2 separate regions of the Homo sapiens genome follow, and region 1 is linked to region 2. The links come from fine-mapping of genetic effects on gene expression. A gene starts in region 2. The other region holds a variant in brackets. All regions are shown on one strand. Distances are between the middles of the regions.

Evidence for each region. PIP is the estimated chance that this variant, and not a neighbour inherited with it, causes the effect.
Region 1: its variant is fine-mapped to the expression of GPHN in cerebellar hemisphere (GTEx, PIP 0.93).

What each region holds. Positions count from the first base shown.
Region 1 is chr14:66,149,826-66,155,209 of GRCh38, forward strand. No RefSeq gene overlaps it. Among named protein-coding and RNA genes, the nearest start is that of LINC02290, 41 kb to the left of the region's middle. RefSeq lists a silencer at 2,513-2,713. The variant T/C (reference allele first, on the strand shown) is at 2,337.
Region 2 is chr14:66,505,956-66,511,339 of GRCh38, forward strand. It overlaps GPHN (gephyrin), which reads left to right and starts at 2,192. Exons shown (of 23, transcript NM_020806.5): 1 at 2,192-2,636. The coding sequence starts at 2,573. RefSeq lists silencers at 2,237-2,426, 2,777-2,926 and enhancers at 3,017-3,176, 3,427-3,476.

The DNA of each region.
Region 1 (5,384 bases), 360 kb before region 2:
ATGCACATGTATGTTTACTGCAGCACTATTTACAATAGCAAAGATATGGAACCAACCCAAATGCTCATCAATGATAGACTGGACAAAGAAAATGTGGTACATATATACTATGGAATACTACATAGCCATAAAAAGGAATGAGATCATGTCCTTTGCAGGGACGTGGATAAAGCTGGAAGCCATCATTCTCAGCAAACTAACACAGGAATAGAAAACCAAACTCATGTTCTAACTCATAGGTGGGAGTTGAACAATGAGAACACATGGACACAGGTAGGGTACAACACATACCAGGGCCTGTTACAGGTAGAGGGCGAGGGGAGGGAACTTAGAGGATGGGTCAATAGGTGCAGCAGACCACCATGGCACACGTATACCTATGTAACAAACCTGCACATTCTGCACATGTATCCCGAAACTTAAAGTAAAATTAAAAAAAGAAACATCCTTAAAAAAGTAACACATTTGTTTATATGTTTGTGTTTGCATATATATATATATATATATGTCTGCAAATGAGAAGGAATAAAAAAATCACTTCACTGAGAAAAAAAAAACAGAGATGATACAAACAAATAGAAAAACATTCCATGCTCATGGATAAGAAGAATCAATATCATTGAAATGGCCATACTGCTCAAAGCAATTTATAGACTCAGTGCTATTCCTATCAAGCTACCAATGACATTTCTCACATAATTAGAAAAAAACTATTTTAAAAATCACATGGAACCCAAAAGAAAATCCCAAATAGCCAAGGCTATAACAAAGCTGGAGGCATCATGCCACCCTACTTCAACTATACTACAGGGCTACAGTAACCAAAACAACATGATACTGGTATGAAAACAAACACACAGACGAATGGAACACAATAGAGAGCCCAGATATAAAGCTGCACACCTGCAATTATTAGATCTTCGACAAACTGGACACAAACAAGAAATGGGGAAAGGACTCCCTTTTCAATAAATGGTGCTGGGAATACCAGCTATCCATATGCAGAAGATTGAAACTGGACCCCTTCCTTATACCATATACAAAAAAACTCAAGGTGGTTTAAAGACTTAAATGTAAAATATAAAACTATAAGAACCCTGGAAGATAACCTAGGAAATATCATTCTGGACATAGGTCCTGGCAAAGATTTTGTAACAATGATACCTAAAGCAACTGCAATAAAAATAAAAATCAACAAATGGGACCTAATTAAACTAGAGAGTTTCTGCACAGCAAAATAAGCTATCAACAGAATAAACAGACAACTTACAGAACGGGAGAAAATATTTTCAAGCCATGTATCCAACAAAGGTCTAGTATCCAAGAATGTATAAAGAACTTAAACAAATTTACATGAAAAACAAACAACCCCATTAAAAAGTGGGCAAAGGACATGAACAGACACTTTTGAAAAGAAGACATATACATGGCCAACAGGCATATGAAAAAATGCTCAGCATCACTAATCATCAGAAAAATGCAAATCAAAACCACAATGAGACACCATCTCACACCAGTCACAATGACTGTTATTAAAAAGCCAAACAATAACAGATGCTGGTATGGTTGTGGAGAAAAGGGAACACTTAAACACTGCTGGTACAAATATAAATTAGTTCAGCCATTGTGGAAAGCAGTGTGGTGATTTCTGAAAGAACTTAAAACAGAATTACCATTTGACCCAGCAATTCCATTACTGGGTATATACCCAAAGGAATATAAATTGTTCTACCATAAAGACACATGCATGCATATGTTCATCACAGCACTATTCACAATAGCAAAGATATGGAATCAACCTAAATGCCCATCAGTGGTAGACTGGATGAAGAAAATGGGGTACATAAATACCATGGAATACTATGTAGCCATAAAAAATGAGATCATGTCCTTTGCAGCAACATGGATGGAGCCAGAGGCCATTATCCTAAGTGAATTCATGCAGGAACAGAAAACCAAGTACCACATCTTCTCACTTATAAGTGGGAGCTACACTGAGTATACATGGACACAAAGAAGAGAACAACAGATACTGGGGCCTACGTGAGAGTGGAGGGTGTAAGAAGTGAGAAGATTGAAAACTTCTTACTGGGTACTATGCTTATTATTTGAGTGATGAAATAATCCTTCCACCAAACCTCCGTGACATGCAGCTTACCTGTAAAACAAACCTGCACATGTACCCCTGAACCTAAAATAAAAGTTAAAAAAAAAGCGACAACTAAGCTCTATGTGACTCAAGGGCAAGAAATGTGTCTAATATTTTCTTGCTGTTTCCACTGGGCCAGAAGCATGCTCACATTAAGAGCTCCTTGTATGGCTACTACCTAGTTCCA[T/C]TGAGAAGGACTGGGTATCAGGCAAAGAGCACGGAGGTGGGAAACAGAAGAGCTGGTCCAGTTCTGGCTCTGCTCTATGACCCCGAGCAAGCCCCTCTGCCTCGCTGAGCCCCATGTATCACATATGTGAAAGGACACCACCACCACTCTGCACAATGCTGTGTGAGGTCAGATAAATAATGTGCACTGAAGTCCTGAATACACTAAGCTTAAAGCCCTGGTCACAGGAAAGGTGTTTCTGCTCTGTCTTTCCCTCTCTCCCCACACAGGCCACTGAAGACACATTTTAGAAAAAATCCTGGAACTGATGAGTCAGCACTTTCCAATCACTGGGGACAGGTCTAAAATTTCAAGGCTGTTAGTACAGACAACTGAGAGAAACACAGAGAGGACTTTTTCAGTCTGGAAGATAGGCAGGAGGGTACTTAAAAGAGAAAGTCAGAAGCCCAGAAACAAAATGTATCCCCAAGCCCAGGGTCATTCAGTTCCTTCTGCAGAGGCCCAGGGTTAGAATTAAGTGGGCAGCAATTTAGTGGCAACAAGAGACATAAAGGAGACATTTGCAGGTTTTTACTTTTCCTGCAACCAGATATTTCAGAAATAAGGCCTCATCTGGGGTCTCCCTAAAGTTAATGAGACTGAGCTGACAGTTCATTGACTTGCTTCACGGAATTTATTTTATGAGAGTCTCTAATCCACATGGCTCCTCTTTGCTTTGGGACTCAACCAAAATAAACTCCAGAAATCCCACTAGCTTATTTATACTTACCAGGTCACTTCATACGCCGTGTGCATTCAATCAACATAATTATTATTTAATTCTGAGAGAGAAAACACGATTTTAGTGACTAATTTAATTCAGCTGAGCACACACATGCATGCACATTTGTGTGTGTATGGCTAAGCGCTCAAGTTACAGTTATATAATAAACTTTCCACAGGCACTGGGCTTCCTGTTCAACTTCCTATCATCCAGATTAATTTTATAGGGGAGGGCTCTGAAACTAAAAAGCAAAGATTTCCCAACTGGCCCAGAAGAGGAAGAGAAAAATCTTGGACCACTGCCCTTTTCCAAGACAGTGCCCCTAGGCAAGGGCCAGACCTTCCAGGGGATGGCTGCAAGTCACACTCAGGGAAAGAGACACTAGCACTGAGTTTCTGGCCACAGTGAAGATTTCAATGCCCAACTGTGGTGTGGGAGCTGTGGAGAATGAGCCTGAAGAAACCATGGAGATCTCAGAATTAACCACTCATGGGGACAGAGATGGCTAGTGACCAGTACCATTCCCTGCACCCTATCTCACTTGGGACATAGTGCCTCAAGAATGACTGAGTTAAATTTCCTCCTGCCTCAGTGAAATGGGGACTCAGAATAAAATTAGGTAGAGTTAGAGAGTAAAAAAAGTATTATCTATTCATCCTGAGCTTATGGGTAAGACTCATATCTATTCCAATGAGAAAATGATGTATTACCTAAATAAACAGAGCCAGTTTGCTAGATTAAATCTTTTCAAAACTTAGTGTCCTTGGAGAAAAACCGAAGTGGTTGGTTGAGGGTGGGGTGGGGTGGGGGTAATGGGGATTCCTTGGCAGTGAAGACATTGGAAATGGAGTTTCTGACATAATCCCCAAGCACTCAGCACTTGCTCCTCAGTTGTCTTTTCCTGGATACAGAAAATAACTTGCCTTGGTGTGCTACTCTTAGGCTTTAGGGGGCAATGCTGATTTTCTTTGCTTCAGACTAGTTTTTTCATTGCCTCAGTTACTTTATCACCTCCCCAGGAAAGCAGTCTCAAAAGAACACGTCCAACTAGAAAGGCAGCATAGATGGGTTGGTGTGTTTAGCCGGGTTCTTTGGGCTGCAAAGAACAGAGACCCTTGCCGGTTCGTTCACACTGTGGGAGTCTCTCATGAAGTTACACATGGAAGCAAGGGTATGCCATGAAGCCGAGAAACAGCTGCATACCAGACCTCAAGGGAAGCACCAGAGCACCTCAGACATTCTCTCAGTTGCAGAATGTTATTAATCTGCAATTTGAACTCCACCATTAACATTGACTCAGTTCGTCTCTGTCTTTGCTTCTGCCACCCCGTCTCCACAATCCATGCCAGCCTCTACTCTAGTGACTTTGCTCTATCTTGAAATGTGTATGCTCATGGTAATGATGTCTCCTGGACTCTTCCATATTTTATCTGTGTATTACCTTCTCAGACTGTGCTGTCCCACTTCTGTTACTCCTACAAACTCATCAACTGCCTTCCTCTAATTCCAGTTCAAATTTCTGAGGAAGTTTCATGATGTTCCTATTTGGCAGAGTTTCCATGCTGCATGCTATCACAGGCTGCCGTTCATCAGGCTATGGATTTGCTAATCTATACATCAGACACCTTCTACAGGTCTGATTTGTTTAAGATATAGAAGTGAGGCACTAATGTGTAACTTGACCATTACTTCCATCATGAGAAGCCAGTGCACAGGAATCCCTTAGTATGAGGCTGCAGTCAAGGCAGACTTTTCAAAACTTAGCCTATCTATCCTGAAAAATTAGGAGGTAAGAGCTCAGCTGTCAGTTACCTGAGCATACTTCTGCATATTTCTTGGGTCATAGTAAATAATTTAAAATCCTATTTTACAGAATCTCATTATCTCCATGTTAAGAAAGAATATAACTACAGGCATTTGACCCAATTTCTACTCTCTCTCTGTATATCTATCTATATACAGATAGATATAGATATAGATATAGATATAGATATAGATATAGATATAGATAGATATACAGAAAGAGAGAGAGACAGGGTCTCACTTTGTCATCCATCCTGGAGTGCGGTGGAGCAATTATAGAACACTGCAGCCTTGAATTTCTGAGCTCAAGTGATCCTCTTGCCTCAGCCTCCCAAAGTGCTGGGATTACAGGCAGGAGCCACCAGGCCGGGCCCGATTTCCACTATAAAGTGAAAAGTGAACTTAGATGCCTGACAAGAATTCCAATTTAAAGGGCCTCCTACTTAAAGCATCAGACTTAGCAGGTTTCTCAATGTCAGCAG
Region 2 (5,384 bases):
TTCATATCCACCCTTCCCACTTAAATTTTAATGAATTTAACCATCACCCCTTTTATGAATGCAGAAAGTTAGTCTCTTGTCCTCTTATTATTGATTTGTGAAATAAAGTGCCAGTTTTCTTCCATGAATAATTACAGAATATTCTAATTAAAGGAGTGCTTATTTAGTCTACCACTATACTTAAAAGGTACTTATTTAGTCTACCATCTTATTTAAAGGATGAAGGAAAAGGCCCAAATTTGTTTAGGGTCACAACCTGTTAGTGGGCAGGTTTAGACCTTACGTCTAAGATAGATGTAAGACAGACGATAAGCTCAAGATATTTTCTAATCATTTAGAGTGTGTTGCAGAGAATAGAGATAGGTTAGGAAGATAACAATATAACCAACTATTTGCTCTTCATGTTTAGTTTGAGATAACGGAAATCATTCTCTTGGACATACTTTCTTATCTTTATCTCTCATTTCAAACTAGTTAACAACCCGTTGGCCACCAGGATCTAAGGTGACAATGATAGGGAATGAGTTCATGACCTGGCTTAAATTTTTAATTACTGTCAAAAATACCAGCAATACACATACTAAAAACAAAAACAAAAGCAAAAAAGCCATTAATTTATTTTACCCACTTCAATTCCATCCATCATCTACTTTTAGGCCCCATTATTTAAAATGAAATACATAAGCACGTGAATCTTCAGAGGATGGGTAATTTCATGTTCCAACGGAACAATAAAAAACTCATAATCGGCCAGGCACGGTGGCTCACACCTGTAATCCCAGCACTTTGGGAGGCCAAGGCGGGCGGGTCACGAGGTCAAGATCTTGATCGAGACTATCCTGGCCAACATGGTGAAACCCCGTCTCTACTAATAATACAAAAATTAGCTGGGTGTCGTGGCACGCGCCTGTAGTTCCAGCTACTCGGGAGGCTGACGCAGGAGAATCGCTTGAACCTGGGAGGCAGAGGTTGCAAGTGAGCCGAGATCGCGCCACTGCACTGGAGCCTGGCGACAGAGCGAGACTCCGGATCAAAAAAAACCAAAACCAAAACCAAAAAAAAACCTATCAAAGTGACTTTGAAATTTGTGTATAAACACTGATATACATCTTTTAATACTTTGCTTTTCACTTTTATGCCTCCAGGTTACTACAGCTAAGAAGAGAAAACATATACATATGAGTGTGTGTACACACACACACACGCATATAACTTTTTAAAATTCAGAAGTTGAAAGGTCCAGAACGATAGTAAGAAACTAACGTAGAATAGCCACAGGTGATTAATAACACGTTTCATGAAAGGCACATGGAAATAAATGGCAACAAAAGCTACTTTCATGGTAATCTCACATCCCACGAATACTGAAATGAAAATCGCCGCGGCAATGGACTGTGGTTCAGGTGGAACACGTTCTCGTTCGCTAAGGAGATTGATGCTTTTCATCTAAAAGCAGCGCTCATGGCGAAGAGGCTTAAGGCCACAAAACCGTGGGACAGCAGGAGGAAGAGAAGCCAGGTATCTCCACTCCAGCTGCCCTGCCTCAGACTCCTCAGTTTCGCACGTGAGGATCGTCTTGCAGGCACTGACTGGAGATGGAATCCTAAAGCATAGGTGAAGCGGAAATCCTCCTTCAGGGAGAGCCCACTGAGGAAGCCAGCGGCTAGCACGAGGCAGGACAGGATACCTCCCTCTTCGCCCACGGCGGCCTCTCTGTCATAGTAGCCACCGTTCTGCCACTCATGCAGCTTTCTAAGACACCTCTCGGTTCCCCAGCGCTTTCAGTGGGGCGGCCGGCCATTCCCGAGGGTTGCAAGAGGAGGCCCGGGGTGCTGAGCCAGCCTCGCTGCCCCCGCGTAGAAAGCCGGCCCGCCGGCGAGAGCCAGCCTAAGGCGCGGACAACCAACGAGGTGTCAGGCTCGGCAGGGGATTGCTTCTGTCTGGGGCCCGGCCGAGGTTGCGTTCGTGCCTCGCGCGCACACGCTCCGCGTTCACTCAGCCAATCCGGTGCTACTCGCGCGCCCAGGAGCGATCCGCGGTCCTACTCAGGCTGGGCCGGCTCCTTCCCGCTCCCAATACTCAGCACCCGAGCTCTCACTCCTCCCCTCACTCTCCACGAGTTCCACGCCTAGGGGTGTAGCTCCGCCCTTGTCCCCGAGTCCGCCCCCGCAACCTCCAGAGCGTGTGCTATCCTTTCCTCTCAGTCCTGCCATCTAGCTGCCTTGGGTCTCGCGCTCCGCAGAGCGTTCCGACACTCTCCGGCCTCGTTCTGCCGCCTCCGCGCGCTCTCCCCGTGCGGCCACCGCGCCCCCCAAGCTTGCCTCCTTCTTGCCGGACTTGGGGCCGCGCGCCCTGACTCCTTCCCCTCCCGCGGACCCGCGCACTCCCGGCGCGGCCTCTCCCCCACGCAGGCCACCGTGCACTCTGTGGCCTCCCCCTCCTTCCCCGCTCTCCTCGCGCTTCTCTGGCTCCCTAGCTGTCGCGCTCTCCTCGGCGAGCGCGCTCCCGGCCCGCGCGCTCCGGGCTCCGGTTTCTCCCGGCTCCTGTCAGTGCGGTGACTGCGCTGGGAAACATGGCGACCGAGGGAATGATCCTTACTAACCACGACCATCAAATCCGTGTCGGAGTCCTTACAGGTAACCGGGGGAGGAGGTCTGGGACCTATGAGGCTGCTGTCCCTGCATTGCCTTAGGCTTTTCGCCTGTGGTGGCCCTTCTCTGCGGCCTCGGGAGGAGGGAAGGCTGAAGAAGGGAACCGCGGGGGTGCATTTTACAACCGCTGAGAACCGCCGGAGATTGGGGGTGTTCCCGCGGGTCCCCTCCCCCAGGCCCCAGGAGCCGGGGTCGACCCCGTGGGATGTTAGGCCCCAGCGCCTTCGGAAGCAAAGTCCTGGGCCCCCGGGGACCGAGGGGCCGGTGCGGAGGGCGCTGCGGGGCTCCGCGCTGTCGGTGCAGGCGGCGGGATCCCGGCTCCGCAGTCTGAAGCATGCCGCTCTCGGCTGGCCTGGGCGCATCCTCCGCTAGTGCTCTTCAGAGAGAGGGGGGAATCCCATCTCCACCCCCTTCCTCTCCTTCCCTTCCCCCCACCTGGGCGGCCCCACGCCAGTATCTGTGCTTGCCTGGACGAGACTCAGGTGTTAATCAGATGAAACTGCTCCTCCTCGGGTTGTCCCTCGCGGGCCGGGCGTCCCCTCAGCCACCCATGGGGCACCCTTCGCCTCCCTCGGGGGATGGGGGATCGGCTTGCGTCCGGACCTCGGAAAGTGTCTGCCTTCTGCCTTTCCGCGCAAAAGGCCCTCTGTCTGCCTCGTCGTTTCCTTAGCGAGGACGGGCTGCAGCCTGCTGCCGGGGATCCAGCTTTTTACTTGAGAGGGCAGGATTCCCCTACTCGGGCTCCTCTCCCCCTCCTTTCTGGGAACCCCCACCCCGGTAGAGCGTCCCGAGGCTGGTGAGGAGCGCACTTTTCCCGGGTCGCGTTTCCCTCCCTCGCGAAAGCCGTGTGTGTTCTGCATGTCTGATTCCGTTGCGCTGAATTTGGTTAATATCCGTCACTTCGGCGATCGGCAGTTGCTGCAGGGCATGACTTCCAAGATGAACAGCAAGCGGATTTGTAGGGGTTTCTGCTGTGGTTCTGTAATTGGCAAGGTTTATGTGTAATTGAGTGGCGAGACGGGGGTTAAAGAACTATATTTGGAATCTGAGGGCTTAGTTTGGAGTGAAGGAAATCCAAGACTCAGTGATGTGATTTCGGAAAAAGAAGCAGTGTGGACGGGAATCCTAGTGTTTCCCTTACTTCTTTTTTTAATTTTTTCTTTAACTGTCAAATTCTGACAGGTCGAGACGGTGCTCGAGAAGGGACTAAATTGAATAAGACTTGCTTTTATTATTAGGTAGAAAAAAAATGTCTGAGACTGCCGGCAGATATTGAGTGCAAAGCTTAATTTAGCTGCTGAATTTTATGAAAAGGTGATATCCAAAGCCTCCTTTTTTCTCTTTTAAGTAAAGGATTGCCTTTCCCTGGTATTCTTTCCGTATATCGATGGTGATTAATTGAATTTTCCTAATTAAAAGACCCTTGGATAGAGAAACTAGTCTAAACCAGTTGCAGAAAAGGGAACCCCCAAATCAGAAGGTGCGCTGTTCTCTTCTTTTGGTCCTGAAACTGTTTGGGTATGTGAAGATTCAGTTGTATTTCAGAATTCCTGGAGCTGACATTGCCAATTTTCGAATAATCTGATGGTGGGATGTCAAAGTGTATATCTTTTATCTACCCTCAACTTGCACTTTAAATTCCAGCCATTCTTTGACAATAATAGAGTAGTGAGAAACCAAAATATGTCAGTTGTCTGTGGAAATAAAAAAGGCCATAGATGTTTAAAAGTTAAACCGTAGAAACATTTTTAAAATGAACATTTTCTACTTAAGCTTTCCATTAAATAATAGTTTCATTTAACGAATCAACTTACCTTTGTGAAGTGACATAGCAGATAGGTGTTGTACAGACTGCTTTGAAAGATGCAGCCCTTATCTGGTGTCCCTACAGTCTAATATGGATAACATTGATACGCAAACAAATGAAGAAACATTGTATGTAATTATTGTGCAAAACTTTTCTAAATACATTACCTATGAGTTTGGGGTTAACTGCAAAAGAAATTCCGTATTCAGATGGATTAGGAGAGAATGTGACTACCTGAAGGGAGAATTTAATACATTTACTAGGTCAAGAAGAAACTGTCAATTTTAAGGGGAGTTGAAAGTCAGCAGCCACTTTATAAATAAATATATAGTTGATGATGAGGCTTCTGAGCTAAATAAAAATGCAATGTAAAGGCCTTGAAAAGCTGAAGTGGAATGGGTAGGTGGCATAGGTAAAATGTTAGAGAGAAGGTAACATTAACATTGACAGTGGAATTAAAGACAGTCAGGGGAAGCCGTCTCATGAGAATGAGGTACAGTAGTCTAGGGGGAAAAGTCTAGGGCCAGGAACAAGGATGTAGCTGAAGGAATGAAAAGGCAGCTACAGATTTGGAATAAGTGATAATAGAGGAAAATAGGTTTTGATGATAACATGTATATTTGAAGTCAGAAGTAACTCAGGCTTTTTCTTGAAAGTTGTTGATACAGATATTGTCTACTATGATGGAGAGGAAAGAAAACTGATTTTTCTCAAGTCTGTAACTAGTGGGTTTCATTATCAACAGCTTAATTTCTGTGGTCTTGCCTGATATACCATATGATTTGGGGGAAAGAACTTACAAAAATGAAGCTGTGCTGTACAATTTTGTGTATTCTAGAACTTGAGGTTTTGCAGTTTTACTATGTAGAATTATTCTTTACTGAACTGAAGTATTGTGATTTCATACTTAAGAAAGTTGAGTTGAA